4 linked regions of the Homo sapiens genome follow. The gene in region 3 interacts genetically with the main gene of each other region. Each region holds a gene or a part of one and is shown on either strand. Other genes may lie near its edges.

Evidence for each region. A genetic interaction does not mean that the proteins touch.
Region 1: changes in DOT1L (region 3) and NR5A1 together harm fitness less than expected from each alone (positive genetic interaction), as found in Homo sapiens cells (one large-scale study listed by BioGRID).
Region 2: changes in DOT1L (region 3) and CARM1 together harm fitness more than expected from each alone (negative genetic interaction), as found in Homo sapiens cells (one large-scale study listed by BioGRID).
Region 4: changes in DOT1L (region 3) and BCL2L1 together harm fitness more than expected from each alone (negative genetic interaction), as found in Homo sapiens cells (one large-scale study listed by BioGRID).

What each region holds. Positions count from the first base shown.
Region 1 is NC_000009.12:124,496,526-124,501,297, reverse strand, and holds part of NR5A1 (steroidogenic factor 1), read left to right. Parts: intron 1-582; coding exon 583-1,208; intron 1,209-4,772. UniProt on the Homo sapiens protein: Transcriptional activator. Essential for sexual differentiation and formation of the primary steroidogenic tissues. Binds to the Ad4 site found in the promoter region of steroidogenic P450 genes such as CYP11A, CYP11B and CYP21B.
Region 2 is NC_000019.10:10,919,655-10,924,426, reverse strand, and holds the end of CARM1 (histone-arginine methyltransferase CARM1), read right to left. Parts: coding exon 4,747-4,772; intron 4,551-4,746; coding exon 4,461-4,550; intron 3,992-4,460; coding exon 3,854-3,991; intron 3,769-3,853; coding exon 3,679-3,768; intron 3,594-3,678; coding exon 3,481-3,593; intron 3,378-3,480; coding exon 3,300-3,377; intron 3,053-3,299; coding exon 2,984-3,052; intron 2,813-2,983; coding exon 2,670-2,812; 3' UTR 1,352-2,669; downstream 1-1,351. Other genes in the region: protein YIPF2, read left to right, coding at 235-351, 428-594, 750-932, 1,020-1,136. UniProt on the Homo sapiens protein: Methylates (mono- and asymmetric dimethylation) the guanidino nitrogens of arginyl residues in several proteins involved in DNA packaging, transcription regulation, pre-mRNA splicing, and mRNA stability.
Region 3 is NC_000019.10:2,222,115-2,226,886, forward strand, and holds part of DOT1L (histone-lysine N-methyltransferase, H3 lysine-79 specific), read left to right. Parts: coding exon 1-445; intron 446-1,166; coding exon 1,167-1,372; intron 1,373-3,273; coding exon 3,274-3,338; intron 3,339-4,068; coding exon 4,069-4,772. UniProt on the Homo sapiens protein: Histone methyltransferase. Methylates 'Lys-79' of histone H3. Nucleosomes are preferred as substrate compared to free histones. Binds to DNA.
Region 4 is NC_000020.11:31,711,995-31,716,766, forward strand, and holds part of BCL2L1 (bcl-2-like protein 1), read right to left. Parts: exon of another isoform or gene 4,627-4,772; intron 1-4,626. UniProt on the Homo sapiens protein: Potent inhibitor of cell death. Inhibits activation of caspases. Appears to regulate cell death by blocking the voltage-dependent anion channel (VDAC) by binding to it and preventing the release of the caspase activator, CYC1, from the mitochondrial membrane.

The DNA of each region.
Region 1 (4,772 bases), on a different chromosome or scaffold from region 3:
AGTCAGTCAACAAACAGCTGGACCCTGGGGCCAGCGGTGAACAAGGCTGACCAGGGTCCCCTTCCGGTCACCATCTCCCTGCCAGGCCTTATGCTAGACACCTGAGCCCAGAACTTAGCCCGCAGGAGCACATGGCATGATCCACTCAGCATGATAAGAGTGGGCAAGGACAGGGCACCTGGGGCAAGGACAGTAGAGCCCGTTTGCATGAATCCAGGAGTGCTTCCTGGAAGTAGTGACATTGAGGCTGGGTGTTCAGCAAGCACAAGAGAAAAAAAAAAGTTTGAGTCAGAAGGAAAATGAAAGGCAGGGTGGAGGAGGAAGGAGATGTGTCAAACAGAGGAGTGGAGGTGAGTTCGGTGGAGTGGAAGGAGAGGGGTCTTAGCAGGGATTGCCTGAAAAGCTGAGCAGGGCCTTGAATGCCAGGCAAAGGAGACTGACTTCCCCTGTGGTCAGTGGGAGCCATGAAAGGGTGTTGAGCAGGGGAGAGAGCGGTCAGATTTGTTTGGAAAGGATCTGTGGTGGGGCAGCATGGAAGGGGGCTTAGAGAGGGTGAGTCTGACCCTCTGCCCCTGCCCACAGCCGTGCGCGCTGACCGTATGAGGGGTGGCCGGAACAAGTTTGGGCCGATGTACAAGCGGGACCGGGCCCTGAAACAGCAGAAGAAGGCACAGATTCGGGCCAATGGCTTCAAGCTGGAGACAGGGCCCCCGATGGGGGTGCCCCCGCCGCCCCCTCCCGCACCGGACTACGTGCTGCCTCCCAGCCTGCATGGGCCTGAGCCCAAGGGCCTGGCCGCCGGTCCACCTGCTGGGCCACTGGGCGACTTTGGGGCCCCAGCACTGCCCATGGCCGTGCCCGGTGCCCACGGGCCACTGGCTGGCTACCTCTACCCTGCCTTTCCTGGCCGTGCCATCAAGTCTGAGTACCCGGAGCCTTATGCCAGCCCCCCACAGCCTGGGCTGCCGTACGGCTACCCAGAGCCCTTCTCTGGAGGGCCCAACGTGCCTGAGCTCATCCTGCAGCTGCTGCAGCTGGAGCCGGATGAGGACCAGGTGCGGGCCCGCATCTTGGGCTGCCTGCAGGAGCCCACCAAAAGCCGCCCCGACCAGCCGGCGGCCTTCGGCCTCCTGTGCAGAATGGCCGACCAGACCTTCATCTCCATCGTGGACTGGGCACGCAGGTGCATGGTCTTCAAGGAGCTGGAGGTGAGTCTCTCCTCCCGCCCGGCTGGCCCTGCATCATGGTCCTCCCGGCTGCCCAAGCCTTAGCCCGACTGTCCTTTGGATAGGGCCATCCTTCCCACTGGCTTCAGGCAGTACCTGGGGACCCGGAGGCCACCCTGGGGACATTAAGGAGCATTTCCACTTATCACAGCCTCCTGGGTCCCCGCTCCCTCCCTCTCCTTCTCTCCTCCTTGAGCCTCTGCTCAAGGAGCCACTGCTGCTTTGATCTCTGCCTCTGTCTCTTCCTACTGTGTCTCTCCCTTGCATGTTGTCTCTCTGCTTCTTGGTGTCTCTGCAACCCCTTCAGCCTCTGGGGTTCCCTATTCTGGGGCTCTCTCAGTACTCATTTCCCTCATTCTCTGAGACCCTGGGCTCCCTCAAAGGACTAGCTGAGTCCTTGGGAGACTGTCTTGCCTCCCCAGGCTTCAGCCTAGTGTTGGGAAGGGGGTCCGGCCCATCCTGTCCTCCCATTCAGGGAGGCTGGCAAGGATTGGCAGTGTCACACACAGATGGGGGCTCTTAGTGTTTTAGAGTTTGGGGCATTTGTGGGCCATTCTCCTTCCCAGCTAAGGTGAAAGATCCTCCTGCCTCTGCAAATCTTGCGTATGCTGGATGGTCATGTGCATGTGTGTGGGTGTTCAGGAAGCTAGATAGGTAGGTGGGTGGGGGATTCCAGGGTCTGCCACTGATCTTCCCTGGCGAGGCAGCCTTCCTCTATGGCATGGCCTTCTTTCCCCCTGGGTCGAGGTACCTGATGCTACAGTAATCAGGAAAGCAGCAGGAGAAACTGAGGCTAGACATAGGAAAGAACTTCCCAGTCTTCCCACCTAGTGGCTTGAAGAGCCTGAGGCCCCAGAACTGCCCCTCCAGTGCCCTGGCTCTCTGAGACCTCCCTAGAGGCCCCTCCAGCTGACCAAGGCCTGCCCCTCCCTGGCCTGGGTTCAGGCACTCTTTCACCCAGGGCTATTGGTGTTTAGCTTTCCCAGGCTGACCCCCTGGCTGTTCTGGGGCTGGGTGTAAACAGCAGGGCCCGTTGCCCCCACTGCTGGGGCCACTGCAGCCTTGAGCAGCATTGTCAATGCTGACGCCACTCGGGCCTGGGCTTCCTCCAGGGGCATGAGGCCGGATGGGCTGGGGGCACTGCCTGCCCTGGCTGGTAGGTGGGGGTGGGTGCTCCGAGCCCTAGGGGCATCGCGGGACTGGGGCCTGGGCCATCTGGGAGTCGAGGATTGATGGTGGTGGCTACGGCTTCCACCGTGGAGCGCCTGTCATGGCTGAGGCCTGGGGATGTACCATGTGTCTGTCATGGGGTGGGTTTCTCACCCCAGCCCCTTCTCAACACTGCCCGCCTCTCTGGTCCGACCTAATGGATGAGGCAAAAGGCAGGGTCTTGAATACTCCCACCTGCCTTCTGCTCATGGCTGGAGGCCCTGGTGGGGATGAGGACCCCAAGCATCTTGGGTTGGTTGCTAGCTTCCCTCCAGACTTCCCATGCACCCCCCGTGCAGAGGGGAGGAGGAGCAGGGCATTCCCGGCCTTCCAGAACCCTGGATTGAGGGGCAGGGCACTTCCTCTGGCTGCCTTCCTAGTCTCCCGGGGATTTTCACGCAGGATGGGAAGGGCTTTTGTCCCAGCTTTGCTGAGTGTTTTTTCCTGCTTCTGGCTTCTCCGTGGTCCAAACCTTCCTGCTTCCCCTTCTCAAAGTCTTTGAATTGAGCCCGGGATTATGAGCAGTGGTCACCAGCTTCTCTAAAGGGGCCTTGCAGATAAGTACCAGCCCAGCCCTTAGAGCGCCTCTCGTAAGCCATGTGGAAGTTCTTTTCCACTGGTCCAGTGGACCCTGGGCTGGTGTCTCTTTGCAAAGTCCAGAGGTGAGGAGACAGAAAAGTGGGAGGGGTGTGGGTGACTCCGGCGTCTCTTCTAGCTGATCATTCATTTCCCCACCTCCAGACAGGACACATCTTAGCAGACAGAAGAGGGGGCTCTCTGGCTCTGAGAGTGGAGCAGCCCTTGGGCTGGACACTGGGGACATTAAAATCATCTGGACCCAGGAAGCTGCCAGCCTGGAGGAGAAGTCAGACATGCACTTAGATAATGCCAGTGCGAGGTGCCCAGGGCTCTGAGAGCCACGGAAGGGGCAGAGGGGACCCTGGGGGGAGAGCAAACAGCTCTAACTAAGGAAGTCGGAGAACAGTTCTGTGCCTTTCTAGAAAGTAGAGAAGGTTCAGGGAATTCCAGGCAGTGGGCACAGCAGAGGCGAAGGTCCCGAAATGTGAAGAGGCATCGTGTTCCGGGAGTTCCAATGGGCCTGTGAAGCAGGGCTGGAGAGGTTGGCAGGGCCAGAGCAGAGCCTGGAGCAGGAGTGGGTCCTTGGGCAGTGGGTGATGGATGGCTGCGGGGCTGGCTGGGGCTCCAGGTTCCGGGTCAGGGAGGGGCTCCCCTGACAGAGCTTGGGCTCTGAGCAGAGGCCCACTCAGCCCTCTGATGCTGATGACATCTTGCTGCTCGGGAGGAGTCCTGGAGTCTCAGCTGAGCTCTCAGGGGTGCCAGGGGCCCAGTTGTGTCCGATGCTGAGCTCCAAATGCCCTCTTGGGGTCTTCCTCCCCCATCTTCTTTCCCAGCTGGTATGGGGGTCCCTCCGTCTCCATGTTTCCATCTCACACCAATCCCAGCATGGTAGATTCGATAGTAGCACAGAAGTGAATATCAAAGACTAGAATCAGAGAGGCCTGTTGTCAAGTTCCAGCTCTGTCACTTACATGCTGTATGATTTTGGGCAAGTGACTTCACTCCTCCGGGCCTCAGTTTCCTCGTCTTGAAAATGGGAGGAGTTGAAATAATGTCCACCCCATTGGATTGTGGTAAAGGGTTAGTGAGTAAGGACAGGGGAAGAACTGAGCGCGGGCAGTTTCGGAAGTGGGGTCGCAGCACCCTTCCTCTCTTCCCCTTAGCTACACTGTTTAATCGACGCCTGCAGGCTTATGCAGGCCTTGGCGGGGAGGCAGCAGGGAGAGACACATTGGACCCAAGCTCCTCTGAGCACACGATTGTTCTGGGACCGTCTGAGGGTCACTTTGTCCTGCGCTTATAAAGCAACTTTTTCCCTGTGAGGTGGAAGAAACTCACCTGTACCTGCTGCTTGGTGGGCAGCAGTGCCCAGGGCCCAGGCAGTCAGCCTCTCGTCACTTACTGCGAAGGACAGGCTGGGAGGATGCAAGGGAGGACCCGGGGGGACGGTGGGGGCCAGGAGTGCCCAGTGACCCATTTTGACATCCGTTCACCCTCAACATCCAGCTCCGAGGCCCCCACTGACAGCAGATTTAACTGCCCAGATAGACGGTTTCATTTAAGCGGCAGTAACTGTCAGTCCTGGGCTGACAAATGACACCTCACTGACCACTCTGCCGGCAGAGCGCAGTGGCCAGCCCGTGGTGTGTCAGCCACCAGAGAATTACACAGCCCACCGGCCTTCACAGCCAGACCAATCGGACCCCAGGGGGCTCCAGAGGGGCCCTGCTGGGAGGGAGGTCAGCTTGGCACCCATAA
Region 2 (4,772 bases), 8.7 Mb from region 3:
TGGCACCAATGAGGTGAGACACAGGCCAAGGGTGTGCAGTCCTGAGTGTTTCGGGGAGGGGGATGAACTGACAGCCAGCACTGGGCTCAGCCACCAGGAGGCCCCCGGTGTCCTGGTGAGTCAGGCAAGGTGCTTAGGAAGAGGCTGGGGTCTCAGCACAGCTCAGTCAGGATACATGTCTGCTTGTCCTGGGAGTGCAGGGCCCGGGACCCTGACTGTGCCCCCTACCCCCAGGCCCCTTCTGGATCTGTGCCACGTTGGCCTTTGTCCTGGCCGTCACTGGCAACCTGACGCTGGTGCTGGCCCAGAGGAGGGACCCCTCCATCCACTACAGCCCCCAGTTCCACAAGGGTAAGCAGACGGGCAGGCCCAATGCCTGGCAGGGCCCTGGGGTACAGGGGGTGACTGCTCACCTTGCCCCCCCCAGTGACCGTGGCAGGCATCAGCATCTACTGCTATGCGTGGCTGGTGCCCCTGGCCCTGTGGGGCTTCCTGCGGTGGCGCAAGGGTGTCCAGGAGCGCATGGGGCCCTACACCTTCCTGGAGACTGTGTGCATCTACGGCTACTCCCTCTTTGTCTTCATCCCCATGGTGGTGAGTGTGGCCTGGCGCGGAGTGGGTGGTGGCTGTGTGGGGACACTGGCATGGTCACCTGCCGCCTCATTCCCATGGTGGTGAGGGTGGCCTGGTGCAGAGTGGGTGGTGGCTGGGGGGACTGGCATGGTCACCTGCCGCCGTGTTGCTCCCAGGTCCTGTGGCTCATCCCTGTGCCTTGGCTGCAGTGGCTCTTTGGGGCGCTGGCCCTGGGCCTGTCAGCCGCCGGGCTGGTATTCACCCTCTGGCCCGTGGTCCGTGAGGACACCAGGCTGGTGGCCACAGTGCTGCTGTCCGTGGTCGTGCTGCTCCACGCCCTCCTGGCCATGGGCTGTAAGGTACGGGTCTGGGGTGGCCACAGGTGGGGCCGAGGGGCTAGGGGGGCATGGGCTGGCCCTGCCTCTGACCCCAGGGGTCTTGTGCAGTTGTACTTCTTCCAGTCGCTGCCTCCGGAGAACGTGGCTCCTCCACCCCAAATCACATCTCTGCCCTCAAACATCGCGCTGTCCCCTACCTTGCCGCAGTCCCTGGCCCCCTCCTAGGAAGGCCCGGGTCCCACAGGTAAGGACTATTCCCAGCTGGGCTAAGGGGGCTGCCCTCCCACTCCCAGTCAAGGCGAGAGGTTCTGGGGCCACTCCCAGACAATTCTTTCTTTCAGGCAACACCTAAGTGGACCAACCCCTCTGCCTGTCCTGCCCCCCAGACGATGACTGAAGGCTCCTTTGACACCTTGAGATGATTCTGCTACTTTCCAGACTTTTCTTACAAAGCAAACACTTTTATTTTCTATGCAAAGGTGATTCAGAGAATTTATATAAAGGCGGGCGAGGGGCAGCCGAGCAGGGAGCTTTGGGACAGGGCTGGGGCCCCCATATCCCCCCCGGGCCACCTGCTTTCCCTCCTATGGCTCCCCTGGAACAGGAGGGAGAGCCAAGGGGGCGGCCCAGCCTGGACAGCGCCCGCTCCTGCCTGGGTGCACACACGGCGGGCCTGAGCTCCAGCATCTGAGTTTGGGGGTATGAGAAACAGGGGAGCAGAAGGAGAAGAAAACTGCCTGTGCTGCAACACGTTTCCTCATTTATTTTTTCTTTCTTTTTCTTTTTTTCTTTTTTTGGAGGGAGAGGTCCCTGCAAGGTCCCTTCCCGGGCAGGGGAGGGATGGAAATGCCGTCACAGTAGTAGGGACTGGAGCGTCTACAAGGATGGAGGGGAGCTACTCAGGCCTAACGTTAGCTACAAGGAAAAAGGACGCCTTCCGTGACAGATCCTTGAGGTGTCTGTGTCTGCCCCAAGTGGCCGGCAGTGGCCTTCCCTCCGGGCCCAAGGCCTGCAGCCACCTGCTCTAACTCTTGAGTGGGGGGGCGGGGGGGGACCTGCAGGGGCTCGGGGACAGGACAGCAGCAAGAGGCAGGGGCCGAGGACGGAGGCCTTCCCGACAGTGGGGTGGGTTGTACATTCAAGTGTGAGGTGAACCCTTTGGTGGGGAGGGGGCCCCTGAAGCCTCGGCGGGGCCACCCCTCCCCGCGGCGCCTCTGAGTCTAGGGAGAGGGGCTGCTGGCTCGGCCCGGCCGGCCTGGCTTCACAGAGGGTCTGCGGATTGACACTGGTTCTTTTCATAAAAAAATAAAATTAAAAAAAGCAGCATGTCACGTCCGTTGTGACCGAGGCCTGGTCGTCGAAGGGGAGGCCCCGCCTGGCCAGGCTACCTTCCCACTGGAGACAGGCAGGGGGACAGGTGCTAAGGGACCTGGCAGGCAGGGCTGGCAGGCCCCATGGCGCCTGTTCCAGCAGATGACAAGCCCAGGTCAGGGTAGAGCGGGCAGGAGGGGGGACGAGGGCTCCCACAACATGATTTTGTGTAAAATATGGCAGCGACACACGCTCAGGGCCGGGAGGTGGGGGTTAGGGTGGGGACGGCGGCAACATCGTGTAAAAAAGTGTCCCAGTTCCCATAGCAAAGAGAGCTGTGACCGGGTGTTCGAGCTTCTCCAGTACAAGGGGGAAAGCCGCCCGGCGGGGGCGGCGGGCAGGGACATCATTTGGTTTCCTGGTGCTGTCAGTCCGCGGGGCGGGCCCCTAGCTCCCGTAGTGCATGGTGTTGGTCGGGATGGACATGGGCGACGCCATGGAGATGGCGGGGCCGCCCATGGTGAACTGGCTGTTGACTGCATAGTGGGCACTCGTGCTGCCACCACCACTGCCCTGGGCGCCGGAGGACCCTGTGGAGCAGGCAATGGCAGTGAGGGGCTGCCCTGGCCCGCCCAGCCCCCAGGCAGAGTCACAGAGAGAGAGAAAGGGCAGGCAAGAGGGCAGGCGGGCGGCCGGACAGAGGATGGCGACTCACACGCTAGCTCGGCCCCCACGGGCCCTGCCCCCGCCACCCTCGTTACCTTGGACAATCCCCGTGCTCATTATGGAGCCCATCCGGGAGTGGGTGTGATTGACAATCCCCGTGTTGGCTGCGCAGCGAGAGGGAGGAAAGAAGGAAGGGAGACGGCGTCACCGCCCCCAGCCACCCAGCCCATGCACAGCAGCAGGCTGCAGAGCGAGGCAGAGAGGACGGAGAGCCTCGGCCGAGAGCCCCCAGGAAGAGGAAAAGGTGAAAGGACCAAGCAGAGGCCGACCCTGGTCACCACAGGCCCTTCCCGGCCCCTGGGCAGTCCTGGGCATGGCTCCCTGCTGCCCCTGGCCCTGGGGGACACTCACCTAAAGGAATCAGGTTGTTGTGGCCCACGCTGGAGCCACTGGCAATAACACTGCTCAAGTCATAGGCGGTCGGCATCCCTGTGTCCAGAGAGGGAGACGTCAGGGCTGGAGGCAGAGGGGCCAGGCCTGCGGCGAGGGCGGCCTCCCGGGTTGGCTGGGCATTGGGGTGGGCCCTGCTCACCTGCCACGGCCATCCCGCTGCTGAGGTTGTAGGTGCTGCCCGTGTTCCACATGTTTTCCGAGGGAGATGTGTAGTGGGAGCCGGGTGGGGGTGAGGGCGTTGTGCCCGTGTATCTATGGCAGAGACAGAGCCATGGGCAGGGGCAAGGGGGTTGCAGGGCCGGGGCGCCCCCCTGTGCAGGCAAGGGGCCCCTCCTACCTAAAGAAGGGGTTTTTCAGATCCAGGAGGTTACTGGACTTGGAGCCGGTCTGGTCCACCTGGGCCACAATACTGATGTCGTAGCTCTGTCTGCGGACAGGGTGCAGGCCGTGGCATGAGCTGCTGGGCAGATGGACCCCTGCCCACCACCACCAGCCCCAGGGAGCAGTCGCACCTTTTGTTGGCAATAAGCAGACATGTCCCTGAGAGCGTGTCCCCTGCCTTGGCGAACAGTGGTGACTGGAACAGGCACCGCACCTGGTACCAGTGGGTCAGGGGCTCTGTCGGGGCTGTGGACAGCCACACGGTCATTCTGTGGAGCAGGGACAGGCACATACTTGACTGGGCCGGCGCCACCACTGGAGCCACCACCTTGTATGCCTTGAGTCCTCCCCAAGCACCTGCCCCCTCTGCCAGGGACCCCTGGGACCCTGGAGCAGAGACAGGCTGGCCCCCAGGCAGTCCCAGACACAAACATGAGCAGGCATACATGTACACACGAGGGGCCCGCAACCACGAGATCCCTACTCACCCTGACATGTGCCAAGAGACAGACACAGACCCATGAGGGACAGACACTGGGAACACAGGACACACACACACATACACACACACACACACACACCCCACCCACAACAGTCTCTTGCTCCGAGACAGGCTCTCACTCCCATTGGAAGGGATGGTGGAACCTGGAGCCATGTTCCACCCCCCCAGCCAGGTTGCAGCTGCAGGAAGCCCTGGGAGTGGGGAGGAGGCAGCATGGGCTGCTCTGCGGCACTCACATGGAGCCGATGAAAGCAACGTCAAACCAGAAAGCCAGGCCGTGGACCAGCCCTGAATGCAGCATGTGGAATTTGAATGGGATTTCTATCCTGGAAGGCAAAGGGCAGTGGCTGCTGGGGAAGCCAGACAGGCGCTGCCGAGAGAGAAGAGGGGGTGCCAGGTGCAGAGGCCTGGGGCCCCCGCCCACCATCTGCCCTGGGACGGCAGGATGCCGGCGGGAGCCAGGGGTGGCCCTGACCTTCGGCCTGAGCCAGGCCTGGGAGGATGGAGTGTGGGTGCCAGTACCTGTGCAAATCTCCTTCTTTGGCTTC
Region 3 (4,772 bases):
CTCCACGCCACAGCACCCCCTGCTGCTGGCACAGCCCCGGAACTCGCTTCCTGCCTCTCCCGCCCACCAGCTCTCCTCCAGTCCCCGGCTTGGTGGGGCCGCCCAGGGCCCGTTGCCCGAGGCCAGCAAGGGAGACCTGCCCTCCGATTCCGGCTTCTCAGATCCTGAGAGTGAAGCCAAGAGGAGGATTGTGTTCACCATCACCACTGGTGCGGGCAGTGCCAAGCAGTCGCCCTCCAGCAAGCACAGCCCCCTGACCGCCAGCGCCCGTGGGGACTGTGTGCCGAGCCACGGGCAGGACAGTCGCAGGCGCGGCCGGCGGAAGCGAGCATCTGCGGGGACGCCCAGCTTGAGCGCAGGCGTGTCCCCCAAGCGCCGAGCCCTGCCGTCCGTCGCTGGCCTTTTCACACAGCCTTCGGGGTCTCCCCTCAACCTCAACTCCATGGTAAGGATGGGGACCGGCAGGGCTGGGGAGCGCGGCCTGTGAAAGAAAGACCAGAGGGAGACCGGGCGCGGTGGCTCACGCCTGTAATCCCAGCATTTTGGGAGGCCGAGGCGGGTGGATCACAAGATCAGGACATCAAGACCATCCTGGCTAACACGGTGAAACCCCGTCTCTACCAAAAATACAAAAGATTAGCCGGGCGTGGTGGCGGGTGCCTGGGAGGCTGAGGCAGGAGAATGATGTGAACCCGGGAGGCGGGGCTTGCAGTGAACTGAGATCGGCCACTGCCTGGGCCACAGAGCGAGACTCCCTCTCGGGGGGACAAAAAAAAACACAAAAAAAAACAGGTGGAGGCAGGGGGCCATGACTGAGCCCGGCCATCCTCCACCACGTGCGGCCTGGCAGCCTGGGAAGAGGCGGCCGACAGCTGTCTCTGGGGTTCGGAGTGCGATGCGCTGCCTGCAAGCTTCTTCATTCTCGGCTGTGGGGCCTTAGTGGTGGTGGGCACATCAGGAGGGGGCATGGGGGGCTCTGGGATTGCGGGGTGGTGTGTGAGGACCAGGAAGAACCAGGACAGGGGCTGTACTGGCCGCTGGGCAGGGCATCAGTTTCCTCAGGAGACCCTGGGGTGCAGACAGGAGCCTCCTGGGGCGGGGGGGCTCTCCTGCCTTGGGGTCCCGGGTCTGTGGTATGTGCATCCATTGTGTCTGTCTGCCCTCAGGTCAGTAACATCAACCAGCCCCTGGAGATTACAGCCATCTCGTCCCCGGAGACCTCCCTGAAGAGCTCCCCTGTGCCCTACCAGGACCACGACCAGCCCCCCGTGCTCAAGAAGGAGCGGCCTCTGAGCCAGACCAATGGGGCACACTACTCCCCACTCACCTCAGACGAGGAGCCAGGCTCTGAGGACGAGCCCAGCAGTGCTCGGCGAGTCCAGGGGCCCGGAGGGGGGCGGGGCCTGGCAGCAGGGGCAGGAGGTGCCTGCTCACTGTGTGTGTGTGGGTGGGTGGGTGGGGAGGACCGGCAGGCTCTTAGGGGGTGCCCTGGATGGGAGGAAGGCGTCTGTTTTGTGAGGGGCCTCCCCACAGGTCCTGGGCCCCGTTCCGGGCAGGGCCGGCCTCCCGGGCCATTCGGGGTGGGACACGAGCAGGGCCATCGGTTAGAAGAGGCAAGCTGAGGAGGAGCTGAGCGCAGCAGGAGAGAAGCTTCAGCAGTGAGGCGTTGGAGGTCTCATCCACACGTCTTGCCGAGTGTATTACAGTAGCTTTATTAGATAAAATTCACATATCGTATTCTCCATTTAAAGTGTGCAATTCAGAGGTCTTTGGTATATCCACATTACCACTGCCTAAATCCAGAACCTTCCATCATGTCCTGAGAAAATCTCATCATCCCCTTGAAACACTCACTCCCCTTCTCCTCCCAAGAGCCCCTGGCACCCCCCGCCCCCATCCTACTTTCTGTCTCTGAATCTGAGGGCTCTAGGGACCTCCTAGGAGCGGAGTCACACAGGATGTGGCCTTTTGTGTCTGGCATCTCTCACTGAGCGTGACGTCCTCAAGGTGCATCCTCGGTCCCTGTCGTGGCTGGGTGGTGCTCCACCATCCATCCGCCCTCCGTGCTAGGCTTGCTTACCCTGGGCGGTTGTGAGCAGCACTGCTGTGGCCATGGGTGTGCGTGTTTGTGTTTGGGAGCAAGTTTCCCGTTTCCTGGTGCCTGGGCGGAGGTGCTGGGTGGCCCGGCCCCCTGGGCTCTCCAGCAGCCACACCATTCCACCCTGCCACCATGGGTGCACGAGGGTCTGAGGTCCTCAGTCCCCACATCCTCAACACACTGAATTTCTTGTTTTGATTCTAGCCATCCGAGTCGTCGTGAAGTGATATAACATGGTAGGGTTTTTTGCTTTTTTTTTTTTTTTTTTCCTGAGACACAGAGTTTTGGTCTGTGGCCCAGGCTGGAGTGCGGTGGCGCGATCTCGGCTCACTGACCCTCCGCCTCCTGGGTTCAAGTGATTCTCCTGCCTCAGCCTCCTGAGTAGTTGTGTCTACAGGCACACGCTACCACCGTGCCTCGTTCGTTTTTTTGTTTTATAGAGATCGGGTTTTGCCATGTTGCCCAGGCTGGTCTCAAACTCCTGGCCTCAAGCCTTCTGCCTCCCAGTGCCTCCCAGCGTGCGCCATCACAGCCGGCCCTAAGTGTGCTTTTGGTGGTGTTCTGTGTTAGTTCGTTCTGCTCCTTGCCCACGTGTGCGTGCACGTGTTACACGAGAAACATTGTAGCACCTGGATGCTCTGTTTTGCATTGGGATTGCTCAGCTTAGTGGTTTCCAGGATCTTTAGGAATTTGTGTGTCCCTGGTGTGTTCTTGGGACATTGGATCAAAGCGACCCCATGCAGTGTGTGGTTGGGCATGTCTTCACGTGCTGGCCTGCAATGCTGTGGCATTGTTTGCCACCTGAGGCACCGAGGTCTGAGAGGGGCCGGGAGAGGGAGGTAGGAAGAGAGCTCTGTCTGGGATTCTCACACTTCTGTGTGCTGGGAAATTGCTTCTCCCATTCAGCTGCTGTGCCTGATCTCTTGGCTGCTTGTCCCAGCAGAGGCCCTGGAGTCCCTGCCAGGACAGTACCCTTGTGGCACAACAGGGGTGGATCCCAGGGCCCAGCCACCCAGTCCAGGCCTGGCCCAGGGTGGCTGCACGGGTCCCCTGTCTGGGCCGAGTGCTTCTCGTTCACCACCTCCGGAGCTCCCTGGGCTGTTGGCTGTCAGCATTTGTGTCATTCTTAGTATGCAGCTGGGTTTCAAGCATTAATGACCTTTTTTTCTTAACAGAATTGAGAGAAAAATTGCAACAATCTCCTTAGAAAGCAAATCTCCCCCGAAAACCTTGGAAAATGGTGAGTAACAAGTGTTTTGCGGCGTGGCCAGGCCTGTCCGTGTGGCCGTGGTGCCCAGTCAGTGCTGCTGACCCACCTGCTGGCCCGCTGCATCGTGTCCCGCATGGTGCTGGCCCGCTGCGTCGTGTCCTGCGTGGTGCTGGCCTGCTGCGTCGTGTCCTGCGTGGGCGCCGACACTGGGGGCGCTGGGCTTCCAGAACTGCCTCTGGGAGGCCCTCACTGCAGCCCAGGGCCTCCGCGCACACGCCATGCTCTCACAGTGGGTGGCTGACCTGCGGGGATCGTCACCTTGGGTCCCCTGTTTGCTTTGCACCCTGGCCTTCCCCCCGAGTGGTGCCTGCGTCCTCAGTGAGGACCCTGACCTGCTCTGGGGCAGCCCCACCTTCCCTCCCGCAGGCTGCTGACCTCAGCATTTTCCCCAGAGCTCATCCCGCATGGCCTCTGAGACCCGCTTCAGCTGCCTCTGTCCTGTCTTCCGCCCTCCTGTCCCATCCAGTCCCGTCCCCTGCCATCTCATCCTGTGCTGTAGTCCTCCTGTCCCATCCCATCTTGTCCCCTCCCGTCCCCTTCCCTCCTGTCCTCTCCCATCCTGTCCCGCTTGGCATCTTGAGTGTCTGTGACCAGCCCTGCCTGCAGAGTTGCCCGGGCCGTGGCAGCAGCCCCGGTTAGCCTCATGGGTAGCCCGGGCAGGTGCTCTGGGCTCACGGCTTCTGCCTTTCCTCTTTGCCAGGTGGTGGCTTGGCGGGAAGGAAGCCCGCGCCCGCCGGCGAGCCAGTCAATAGCAGCAAGTGGAAGTCCACCTTCTCGCCCATCTCCGACATCGGCCTGGCCAAGTCGGCGGACAGCCCGCTGCAGGCCAGCTCCGCCCTCAGCCAGAACTCCCTGTTCACGTTCCGGCCCGCCCTGGAGGAGCCCTCTGCCGATGCCAAGCTGGCCGCTCACCCCAGGAAAGGCTTTCCCGGCTCCCTGTCGGGGGCTGACGGACTCAGCCCGGGCACCAACCCTGCCAACGGCTGCACCTTCGGCGGGGGCCTGGCCGCGGACCTGAGTTTACACAGCTTCAGTGATGGTGCTTCTCTTCCCCACAAGGGCCCCGAGGCGGCCGGCCTGAGCTCCCCGCTGAGCTTCCCCTCGCAGCGCGGCAAGGAGGGCTCGGACGCCAACCCTTTCCTGAGCAAGAGGCAGCTGGACGGCCTGGCTGGGCTGAAGGGCGAGGGCAGCCGCGGCAAGGAGGCAGGGGAGGGCGGCCTACCGCTGTGCGGGCCCACGGACAAGACCCCACTGCTGAGCGGCAAGGCCGCCAAGGCCCGGGACCGCGAGGTCGACCTCAAGAATGGCCACAACCTCTTCATCTCTGCGGCGGCCGTGCCTCCCGGAAGCCTCCTCAGCGGCCCCGGCCTGGCCCCGGCGGCGTCCTCCGCAGGCGGCGCGGCG
Region 4 (4,772 bases), on a different chromosome or scaffold from region 3:
AACAACACCTACTTTGCAAGATTTTTAAGGACTGGAGATAAAAAGGACAGGCTTCAGAGTAAGAGAGACCTGGTTTCAAATGCTGACTCTGCCTCTGGCTAACTATAAGCCCTCCCAAATCTCAGTGCCTATAACGATAAGGTTGTTGGGATAGTAACAAAAACAGCGTCACTAAAGGCTGTCACATAGTGAGCACTGGATTAATGCCAGCAGTCACCTAGACAATAGCGCACTGGACGAGGGAACACAGTGGAGCGTTTAAAAGGGGGAGGTTGGAAGCTACCCTCCCAGGCTTTGCCTCTTACTAACTGTGCTACTTTGCATAAATTGCTTAACCTCTCTGTACCTCAGTTTCCTCATGTGTGAAACAGGGATAAAAGAACCTACTTCAGAGTGCTGCTGTGAGAATGAAATCTATTAATACATGTAAAGCACTTTGAACAATGGCTGGCATAGAGTAAGCACTCAATAAGTGTTAGATACTATTAATAGTAATGTTAACAATAATATTAATCACCAACTGGAGTAAGAGGGAGGGACTGTTTATCCTGGGACATGGGTGTCCCATGAAATAATTACAGAGAAGTCTCAGCAGCTGTTTGTAGGCAAGTTTTTAGCCTCGAAGACTCTATGGAAAGGACACGAGGCTGGGGGCTCCTGAGCAAATATCCCAGTCCCACTGACCAGGAGGCCAGTCTCTAGGGAAGCGAGTCAGGCTCCTTGGAAGGGACACTATGTTCCTATCCCTGCCTGACTCGGGGGAACAAAGGCACGTGTGTATGTGTGTGTGGCCAGGGAGGAGGGAGGGGAATGTTTCCCTTTCAAGAGAGGAACAAAGGATCTGAGGCATAGTTGAGTGCGTTCCAATCCCCTCCCAGGCCAGCTCCCATTCCTCAGATGATTGTCCAACAAGGTTTTCAACCTTCTAGCTTCCTCCTCAAAGGTGACTGGGGGAGGGGAAGGCAGGCTCTGTTTCACTCCACCCTTTATCATCAATTTCCAAGAGGCAGGATTTATATGTGCCAAACCTCAAGTTATCTCTTAAGAATCCCATCCTATGCAGGGGTGGGGTGGAATCTCCTAGGGGAACTCAGGGTTAATGGATGACACAGGGCACCGCAAGCAACAGGTTTAATGCATCTCCAGGGGAAGTCCAGGACTGAAACTGCTAATGCGTGATGGAGCCAAGGAGAGAACCCAGGAATTCTAACTGACCTCCCTCACAGCCTAGCCTAGGGTAGGGGGTAATGGCCTGGCAGAACCAAGTAGAAAGGCATTTTCTAAATCTTGAAGGGATGATCACAGCTGGAGGCAGAAGCCAGGTGAAGGAGGAAAGGGTAGGGAGCAAAGAAAGTAATGGACAAGAGGAAAGGCAGGGACACGTCCAAAAAAAGTAGTTTTTGGGGGGCGGACCTCTAGGGACATTGCTTTCCAGTTTCCACACTCTTGCCGGCAGGGCTGGGACAGGAAGCAGTCCATGGAAGTCATCGCAATGGCATTTCCTGAAGAGCTGGAGAAAAACCTCCAGTTCCGAGGGGAGCACTGGAGGCTGCCCAAAAAGCTGTGTGGCTCAGAGTTCACTGTAAGGCTCAAGCTTGGCCCGAGAGTCTCATCAGGGATGAAACCAAATAGCAGACGGTCCCAAAGGCAGTTTCTTTATACAAAACCACAATTTCAAAAATCAATATGTAAAAAAAGAGAAGCCAGATGATGTGAGTGAAGAGCCCTAGGATGATATGAAAGCCTTAAAAGAATGAATTAATTCACCCAATCTTCAGAAAAAGGTGGCATTACTATAGCCATTTACAAGTTAAAAGACTTGCCCAAGGTCACACAGCAAGCTAGTAGTCAAGTTCCAATTTGAAAGTCCAAAAACTGCCTCTTCCTCCTGATGTAACCTTGGGCAAGTCAATTCATCTTTCTCACCTGATTTCTCTCCTTTGAAACGGAGATGTCATCCTTCCTGCTCACCTCTCTGGGTGGTTATAAGGATCAAAAAGGCAAGGTGGATCTGAAAGTGCTTTGGAAGCTGTAAGGTGTTACATAAATATAGGGTAGCACTATTGTGGGCTCAGTGATAAACTAGCCTGCCTTGACACTGGGTTTAGTTAAGGTGCTGACATATCTGTCAACAGGAGAGAGCCATTTTAAAATATAACTAATGTGAAATATGCTGTAATGGTGGAATCCGCCACAAGGCCTAAGGATAGAGAGAACCAGCATTCCTTTATTGCCTACTTCAAACCCTCCATCTTGCATAAAGGGAAACTGGGGACTGGGGGTGAAGTGACTTGGCCAAGGTGAGACTGAGAGTAGAACTGGGATTCCAACTCCAAGACCAGTGCTTACACCACCATTGCACACAAACACTGTGGAGCTCCTACTACAACAGAAATGCTGCAAGGGCCTGCTCTGAGATGTGCTGATGGGTCACTATGGTATTTAGAAAAAGGAGAGTGGATGCTCAAGATTCCGTGAATGGGTCTCTGACATGCGTTCTGTGGAAAGATAATAAGAATAATGATACCAACATGGCTCCAGTCTTTATGCATCTCAGGTATACCTCACTGTGTCTTTACCATCGCCCCCTGTGAGGCAGGTATTATTATTTGTCCCAAGATTCAGAGAGGTAAAAGGAGCTTGCATAGGTAGACACGGATGAGTTGGGAACTGAACTCAGACAAATTTCATTTACTCAGACAGAAATACTGTTGGAGTGGAAGAGGACCATTCATCAGAATATCACATTTGGAGAGAACTATTCCCAAAGAACATCTATCTTACTTAACTTTGATTCTAGGACCTCCAAGTAGTTGAAAAATATGGTTTCCAGGATGGCTGGACCCATCAATATACCATGTGCAAGCCTGGTCTTATTCTCCAGTCCCCGTCTCACTACACCTCCACCTCTAGGTCCAAGCCACTATTCTTTTTCACCTGGCAATTGCACCAGCCTCTTCACTGGGCTCCCTGTTGCCACCCTTAAGAATACAGACCAGGCCTGGCACGGTGGCTCACGCCTGTAATTCCAGCACTTTAGGAGGCTGAGGCGGGCGGATCACGAGGTCAGGAGATCGAGACCATCCTGACTAACATGGTGAAACCCCGTCTACTAAAAATACCAAAAATTAGCCGGGTGTGGTGGCGGGCACCTGCAGTCCCAGCTACTTGGGAGGCTGAGGCAGGAGAATGGCGTGAACCCAGGAGGTGCAGCTTGCAGTGAGCAGAGATCGTGCCACTGCACTCCAGTCTGGGAGACAGAGAAAGACTCTGTCTCAAAAAAAAAAAAAAAAGGAATACAGACCATTCCACCAAAGCCAAATCCTCATCATGGTCTGTAATGCTGTATGCGATCTGGCCCCCACCTACTTCTCCATCCTCCTCCTCAACCATTCCCTCCCCACCTTCTACCCTTTTCCCCTTTGCTGTTTCTTCTCCAGCCACATTGACCTTCTTGCTCATCCTTGAAAATGTCAAGCATGCTCCCTCCTGAGTCCATTCCCTCTGCTTTAAACACCCTTTGCTGTAGGGTACCTACATCATCCACCTCCTTACCTCATTTAGCGCTTGGCTCAAATAAATTTAGGTAATACTTTTGTTGGGACTCAGGACATACCATCCCAAAATATGACTGTAGGAAAACAATATGCCACCCCAAAAATATACTTCTTTGGCATATTTTGAACTGGTTATTCTGAGAAACTGCAGACATAAGAGTAGCTCTGAAAAGCTGTCCTTTTGTAAAAGAAATTCACATCTAAAAAGGAAATCTACACTAGTAAAGGTATCTGTATTAGGAAGAGGGCTGCTCCAGACAAATTTTATTACCAGAGAGACTTTTTATTTTTATTTTTTGAGACAGGGTCTTGCTCTGTCACCCAGGTTGGAGCGCAGTGGCTTGATCTCGGCTCACTGCAACCTCCACCTCCCAGGCTCAAGTGATCCTCCCACCTCAGTACACCCCCTCAACAGTATCTGGGACCACAGACACACGCCACCACCAATTCTTTCCCTCACCCTGCCATAACTTGGGTTGCTGCCACTCAAGCCCCTAACAGAAGTCCCAAGCCCCATATTCTTTTCTGTAGCTCAGGATGCTATATAAGCTTCAATTATCTGACCCTTCTTTGAGCCTCATATTTTGTAGGATTCCTGTGTACAACTATGTAATTAATTATTTTTCCTCCAGTTAATCTGTCTATGTCAATTTAATTCTCAGCCCAGCCAAAGGACCTAGAAGGGTAGAGGAAAGCCATTTTTTTCTCCCTTACACCTTCTTTGATCACTCTTTTAAAACTGCAGCCCCACCCTCCCTTGCTAGACATGCCCTATGCCCCAACCTGCTTTATTTTCTTCATAGCATGTACAATCATCTGATATAAACATGTAATTATATATTTATTGCCTGTCACTCCTCATTGGAATGTGAGCTCCATGAGGACAGAAACTTAGTTTTGCTTACTTTTGTTTACTGCCATACTCCCAGTATGGTACACAGTAGGAGCTCAATAAACATTGTTTGACTCAACGAATGAATTATTAGGTAAATAGCCACTCCCATTATTGTTATTCTGGCTTGACAAGGGTCTGTTTCTTCAGAAATTTAGTGGGTTTCTCTTCAATTAGGTATCTGCTATGCCCAAGGCCTCTGCTCAGTGCTGAGGAAACAAGCATGGACAAGATGTGGCCTCCACCCTGAGGAGCTCCTAAATCTAGGACAGAGTAAATCTGTTAGAAATGTCTTCTCTGCACATAATTTAAGCTCTACCAAC